Homo sapiens: one gene and its partner. The protein of the gene in region 1 interacts with the protein of each later gene in a pairwise test. Each region holds a gene or a part of one and is shown on either strand. Other genes may lie near its edges. The genes, in order: TUBGCP4 and CHIC2.

Evidence for each region.
Region 2: the proteins of TUBGCP4 (region 1) and CHIC2 interact in a two-hybrid assay, tested with the Homo sapiens proteins (one large-scale study listed by BioGRID and IntAct).

Annotation. Positions count from the first base shown.
Region 1 is NC_000015.10:43,394,918-43,398,742, reverse strand, and holds part of TUBGCP4 (gamma-tubulin complex component 4), read right to left. Parts: intron 3,637-3,825; coding exon 3,586-3,636; intron 3,161-3,585; coding exon 3,055-3,160; intron 1,530-3,054; coding exon 1,422-1,529; intron 706-1,421; coding exon of another isoform or gene 703-705; coding exon 564-702; intron 1-563. UniProt on the Homo sapiens protein: Component of the gamma-tubulin ring complex (gTuRC) which mediates microtubule nucleation.
Region 2 is NC_000004.12:54,012,392-54,016,216, forward strand, and holds part of CHIC2 (cysteine-rich hydrophobic domain-containing protein 2), read right to left. Parts: intron 1,729-3,825; coding exon 1,672-1,728; intron 1,506-1,671; coding exon 1,446-1,505; intron 1-1,445.

The DNA of each region.
Region 1 (3,825 bases):
TGGAGGACTTTCCCAAGTAAATCAACAAAAAATATTACAAAAGTGAGGGAGAGACCTTGTCAGGTGTGATGGAATCATCAAGGGCCATTATCTCGACATGGTGCCTAAGACCTTATTTTCCAGAGCTCACAAACTGGCAGCCAACAAACTGCTTATTATTTGGCAATTTAAAAAAATGATGGTTTGAAGTAGATATGCCCTCCCACTGATTCCAACTCCGTGTCTCATATCTGTGGCTTCACTTATTAATGTGATCAGTCTAGCCCCTGAAGGCATAAGGGTTTACAATTTTTGATTTACAGATTGTTAAAAACTAGTTGGGTGGCTCTCTTGCTCCCATTAATTTTTTTTTTTTTTTTTATGAGATGGGGGTCTTACTATGTTGCCCAGGATGGATTTGAAATCCTGGGCTTAAGGGATCCTCCTGCTCAGGCTCTGGACTAGCTGGGATTACAGGTGTGTGCCACCACACCTTGCTTTCCCACTAATTCTGTTCCTGCTAGTTTCTTCCCTTACAAGTAAGGTGGGTCATATTTACCTGTGAGAAACTCAGAAATACTCACTTTTCCAGGACAGCTGGGGTGAAGAGAATATGTAGTGGCCACTGTACTTTGTAGGAAAGACCTAGGGCTGCCCAGCCAGATGCAGGGGCTTCCCGGGGAGAAGTTTCCCGAGAAGGCCCTTCTCTTGCCTGAGTAGCATCTGCTGTGATAAAAGAAAAGAAAAAAAGAAAAGATAACAACTTGGTTAATCTAGAACCAGAGACTCAACAAGTGAATAACATTAATGAAACTAGAGCTCACAGGAGTTCAAGACCAGTCTGGGCAATACAGTGAAACCCCATCTCTACTAAAAATACATAAATTAGCTGGGCATGGTGGCACGCACTTGTAGTCCCAGCTACTCAGGGGGGCTGAGGCATGAGAATTGTTTGAACCTGGAAGGCAGAGGTTGTAGTGAGCCAAGATTGTGCCACTGCACTCCAGCCTGGTCAACAGAGTGAGACTCTGTCTCCAAAAGAAAAGCAACAGAGCTCAATGGAGTCTGCGATGTCAGAAGCTTACAGGGGACACTAAGAAGGGGGCAAGGAAACTTCTATGTGAGGTTCTCTTGGGAGGTCTTCTAGAGATTCTTTCCTCAGCCTTAAAATCTGGGGGCTGGAAATAAACAGGCACCATTCCAGCAGCATGACAAAAAAAAACACCAAAAAAACCAACTCCCCCAAAACATGGCCTGGGCATCTCACTTAGCCTCTCTGGACTTCTGGACTTTCCTTTTCTTCTCTATAGAATTATAGTACTGTACTAGCTGATTTCTAAGATCCAAAATCATATGGTTTCTGTGGCGGGGGATGGAAGCAGAGATGGGAAAATGGATGATGACCAGCAGGAACTCTAAGGTGGCAGGGAGGAATGGCAAACCTTTGTGCTCCTTTCCGTGATACTCGATTGTCAAGTGCAACAGAGGGAGAAGGTTGTCATCATCTAGCAATACCTTGTGTGCTGACTGTTGAAAGGCCACATTCACATCTGCAAGAAAGAACACGCAGGCTGACAGGGACGCTTGGCTACATAACAAACCCAGACTCCTCCAGCTTTCCACTTCTCCCCCAACATGCTCAATGCTAACAGCAGGACACAGTGGACATCTGTTTCATTTGTCTAACACCCATCCATCCTTCTCTTCTTGCTGACAAACTGCCTCTTGATTTTCCTTGGAGAATCATCCCTATTCAGTACAGTTCACATATTTCCAGTGGGTTAGTGCTAGACAACACCTGATTCTAGGGGTAGCTGGGTGATGTAGGCATGATCAAATGGAATGTAATACTCTACTTTGTTATGCTATATTGTTTAGGGATATTAACATGACCAAGCCAGGCCAATCCAGAGGCTCTATTCAGACTCTAAAAGAGTCCAGCTCTTTTTTCAAGATAAACAGGGGCTTAGTAGGATGTAAACTTGGCTAGAGACTATCTTGCTACCATACAGAGCAGGCCTGTCTGAGAAGAAAGAGGTAGAAGATGGAAAGAGACCAAGTCCTAAAGGTGCCACACCTGTCACTGGATCAAACTTAGCCGAAAACCATCATACGTCTGAGCTTTTCAGTTATGAGAATCAATACATTATTTCTTTCCTTTTGCTTTGCTTAAGTGAGTTTGAATTGGATTTTCTGATATTTGCAACCACAAGTACTTATATTTGTACTATATAAGTACAGTGGACATCTATGGTTTTACTGAGTTAGAAAAATGATCAGCCTGTGTGTATGTATTTTCTTTCTCACAGTTTCTTTTTTTGGATCCTTACCCAACTCTACTCATGCAGTATGAATGGGAATGGACATCAGTGGGTCAAGGGGTAGACTCTTCACTGAACTAGGCATAGCCTAGTGTCTGACCTCTTTGACTGATACAGGGATAGGGATGTGATGTGGGCTGGGCCAATCAAAACCTAGATAATTCCCTAGAATTCTCTAACTTGCAACAAGAGGGACTGGGTTCAGTTCCTTCCGTAGAGGACACTGTGAGGCATATTCCTGGGAGATGCTGTGATCATGTTTCCAGAAGGTCATCAAAGTGTTCACAAGAGACACAAACAAGATGTGGTGAATGAGTGAATGAGAGAGAGAGAGAATGAATCGAAGTTTTCCCACTGGGGTTTTAGATACAATAGCAAATCCATTTCCCTTTCCTAACTAGGCTAGTTCGGGTGAGTTTCCATCATTCACACCTAAAGAATTCTACTGCAAAACTACAAGCAGCACTAAGTCCCAATATGGCCCATAAAGTATATATGGCTATAATCCAATGAGAAAAAATACCTGGTTTGAAGGCCTGAACCAACTCTTCCAGGAAGGGTCACAGGCCAAGACACTGTTCCCAATGACCCCAGCATGAAGCCTACCTGCAAGAGCCTTCCATCTCTGGAAGCCACTGCTCTGTAACTCATCAGGCTGCTCTTATGTGGAGCAGGCCTTAAAAGGGTCAGCAGCAGCCAAGAAATACCCTGCAATGTCAATCAGTTGATCATTCTCAGGGCCACTGACAATTACCATGCTCAGTTACTGCAGTGGGTGGTGTTTTCAACATGTGTTGAGCTGTGTCAATGAAGGCCTGAAACAGTTCTCCACGTCCCAGAAGGTAAAAGTCTTTAATGATCTGAGGAAAGAATTTCAATTTACAATTCAGTAAAGCAAGGCAGGAGCTCCTCACTGTCCTGAGGAATTACATGTATACAGTAATTTCTAATTTCATCAATTTGAGCCCAAGCTACAAAAGATACAGGCATTTGGCATTTCAAAGAGGCATACTTAGTTCCGCATAGCAGGATGACTGGTGTGTATTTGGCATTATTTATTCAATAGCAACATAATTATATATATATGCCAGAAAAAAGTACACTCCCAAATCTTTGTATTATCGTAGATTTGTGGCATTAGGTATAGTTTGCTCACTTGGATAAGAACAAATGAGTTGACTCTGGAAGTCTGGGTATAGGCAACCAGTGCTCTCAGGAAACATCAGAGAATGCAAGTCACTGCCTACCAGCATCACCGTAAGAATTACAACAGCTAAGCCATTACCTTCAGCTGACCCAGTAAATCGGATTCTTCTACCATCAACTTCCAGAGATGCTATGAAAACAACCAACAAAACAGGGACAAATTTCATTACAGTGAGAACTCCTGCAAAGAATGGTTCCATACAAATCCAGCAATGTATTAAAAGAAGACTATACCTTGCCCCACATAGAAAAATTTACTCAAAACAATCAATGTATTATTCCATTCTCACACTGCTGTAAAGAATACCTTAGACTGGGT
Region 2 (3,825 bases), on another chromosome or scaffold:
AGTTCAGAATGTTTTGGAAGGTTATAAATTATTTTATGAATAAATTATAGTCATATAGTTCTATCTGGAATTCATAGCATTGGGATAACTTTTATGTTTTCCTTTCCAAAGTAAATTTAGAAATGCATGAAAAAATTAATACCTCAGTTTTAAGCTTAGTGTTTGTGTTATAAATGTAGTAAATATTTTTTTCACTAAATTCTTTACATCTCCTATCCATCCCTCTCCCCAAAATATATACATAAACCCTCTATCTAAGATGAAAATACAAGAGTAGTCTCCTCACCTCAAAATGAGTTACTCAAATGTGTTATGATTATAAAGAAGTATCAAGTGTCTTTCTCATCATCATACATTAACATGTTTGATGTAGTAAAGATAAAATCTACATTATTTGGTTCATTGAATAAAGCTAGTCTAAGACATTTTAAAAATATTTTTTATGTTCAAGGCTAGAAATAGGATTTGACTGTGGGATAATGAAAGAACAGGAAAATGCTAACAGACAAAAATGATTTTATGATAATTTACAACTAAACACTGTTTTAATCAATATTTTACACATACACACGCACACATCTATGATGGCTATATTGTTTTAAAGAATAGACAAAATTCCTCAGAAATGTTGTAACAGGTACTTCACAAAGGCTCTGAGTTTTATTTTCAACTATTAACTTTTCCTTAGATCTTTTCTTTTAAAGTAATAACCTGGCCATATTTAAAATAAAATATCCAAGCTCAAAAGAGAATTAAAATTCTTAATTTTCTAGAGTATTCTGAAATTTTCAAAAGGAGAAAAACTGTTCAAGTAAATCATGGAGTCAGTAAATTAAATCCCATGCTGAGTAAGTTCTAAAATTCATTGTATATATATGCCAAATTAGATATTTTTTAACAAGTAAACACAAGATGATCAACATCTCATCTCCTGCTTACTTTTAATTTTTACAAAGCAGTATTCTAATAACACTTTAAAAGAGATTCTTTAAAGGGCACTGAGGTACGGGCAGTTAAAATCTATAAAGGGTAAAGGTTTCTTAAGCTCCAATGGCTTGGCTGAAAGGTTTTCTTCCATACTTGGAAACTTGATTAGCATTATATAAAAAAGCCATATCTGACTTGCTGCGTAACCAAAGTTGTGGTTATTCTTTATACAGCATCTAAAATTTCACACTCCATCAACACATGTTCAGGCTATTTTATCTTGGCAATTAATTTATTATTTTTCAGAACACAGTGAAGCCTTGTTTTCAAGTCATTCATAACTTTATAAATCAGTCTTGCACATGAAACCATGCATCTGTGAACCGTAGAAAATCCTTGCACTCAGGAGATTAAGCTCCTGACACCTTTGCTGATTAATAATCATGGAAAGAATAAGATCAGAAGCAAAATAAATGATCATTTAATAGAGAAACTCACAAAACAGCCCTTTAACTTACATATTCCATCATGTTATTCGTTTCACATTTCCTTTTGCTCAGTCTCCAATGCAAGCACAGCTAGACAAGTAGGAAAGTAAAAGAAGAAAAATGAGCTCTATTTTATTGCAGCACACAGACTAACCCATTTGTCCACCTTTCATATTTTTAGTTCAACAAAAGCATCTGTTTCCATACTGTGCAATTCAGACCCCAACAGTACGAAGCTGCTCCCTGTGGTACTCACCTTGTGGTATAACCTATTGTTTTCCCATTCTAATAACTTCTCAATCGATCTTCGTGTCTGGAAGACAAATGAGAAAAAAGTTTACTCTTGACTGGTTTTAGAAAACTTTGTTTTGCAGCTGCTTTTTCTGTGAAAAGGGGAGAGGTATAAGACAGTGACTGAGTATAGTGTGGTGTGCATCACTATCGATGTTCTAAGCACTAAATGGTAACCTGAACACAAAAGAGTACTCTTTCTTAAAAAAGATATGCCTTTATTTTTATCATACGAATCTTTTTTTACTAGCCTCTGATTTAAAACTATCAAGGTTTAAAAAGCTAATGTCATCTGCCAAATAAAATTAAATTCCCACTTCTTTCAAAAATGTTTCCAATACTTAAATAGTAACGGAAGTTCCTTAATACATATTTTAAAACAAAAGTAAATATTAGTTAACAAAATGCAAATGGCCTTTCAGTAAGTTCCAAAACAAAAAATTGGAATATTAAAAAAATCAATGAGTTATAAAATCAAATTAATTTTCACATCATGCTTAAAATAATGCCCATATTTAAAAGCCAGCTTACTGATTATTCTACCAATAGATTTTTTGAACAGAGCCAAAATTTTATTTAAACCAACATAAAAGTGTCATCTGATAGTAAAATCAAACTCTTAATTCAATACTACTGTTTCAGGAATCAACTGAGAATTTACTTCAGTTGATTTTTGCAAGATATGCTATGCTGCATGAAATGTTTCTTGCTTGAGAATATGAATAAAAGAGGGTAATTCATGGTGCCAGGTGTTAGGATGAGACTGACACAGCTGCAGGTGCAAAAATGACAGTGTTGCCACCAGGATCAACTTGCAACTTGGTTCAGCTGCACTTTTCTTGCAAGAGAAAGAAAAAAACATCTTACCACTATTAATGTGGTATAAAGAAGTACTAGTAATCAAATATGAAAATTTGCGTGTCAAGCAAGGATTAGCTAGGTGAAAAACTGTTAGGATCAAGCTGGGTTTGAACAGTTTAATGTTACATAATAAAATTTTAATATGTATTTAAAGTATCTACTTTAAATAGTTACATTACCTTTTAGCATATTAAACATGCTAAAGACACACCAAAGTCACATAGATGCCAATTATAATTCATAACTACCAATGAATTACGACTACTGCCTTACATTTTCCAAGCTTATGTCATAAAAATCGGAAAATCAACTACTTCCCTGGGTAATAATATGCCAATGACTAATTTATTACATTACTTTTTCTGAAGAGTCTTTTTGGCAAGAATTTTAAAGAAAAAAAAGTGCCCTTGTTAACAATGATCAGCAGACCTCACTTGTTTCTTTGTAAAGATAGCCTTTTAGAGGCAGCTCTCCTTTTAAATGAAAATAGGGCAGCAGTTATGGTCACACTTTTTGTTAATTTAGTTGCCAGTCAGCCCCAAATCAAAAGAAAATAAGGCTGCAGAGTGTAATTAACATTCAGTTCGGTCGTTTTGTCCCTTGTCTAGCCCCCAAGCTTTGTTAAAATTGCCATCTGAATGCTGAAGGCTGTAGGGAAATCGATTTGATTCTAATCGCACCATGAAAAGAACATGATCTAACTGCTTTCAGCCCTCCGTAAATCTGTACTAGGTCTTTAGCACAATGCAACTTCCAATTTAAAAAGCACTGAATGTCTCGTCAATGACTTTGTGAAGAAAAAAGAACAAGGAGCAGACATAAAAATTCCAATAGTTGTTTAAGCATTAAAGTTCATTTGCATCACAGCGAACCTGAAAAGGGCTGACCTCTCAAACCGCCTCTCAGGTCTATGAAGTTGTAGCCTTGACAAGCTCACATTGACAGAGCTCATTGACTCTGAAAGGCTACTCTATCAATGGTGAAAAATGGCAATAGGTTCTACTCTGAGCAGGCATCTGCCTGCCCACCCGCTGCTAAACCAATGGCAAAACCGATTCAAAACCTGAATCTACCTTGTAATCTTTCTTTCTAGGGCCTTTTAATAATAGATTAAGATTACTATACAATTTGAGGTTTTACTTTTACTGATGATTTTGGGGGTGGGTGGATGATGAAAGAACTAGAGCAGAACAAGTTTTCCAAGCCCACTGTTTTATATTAATGTATAAAATAGTACCCAAAAGCTTAATACTACATT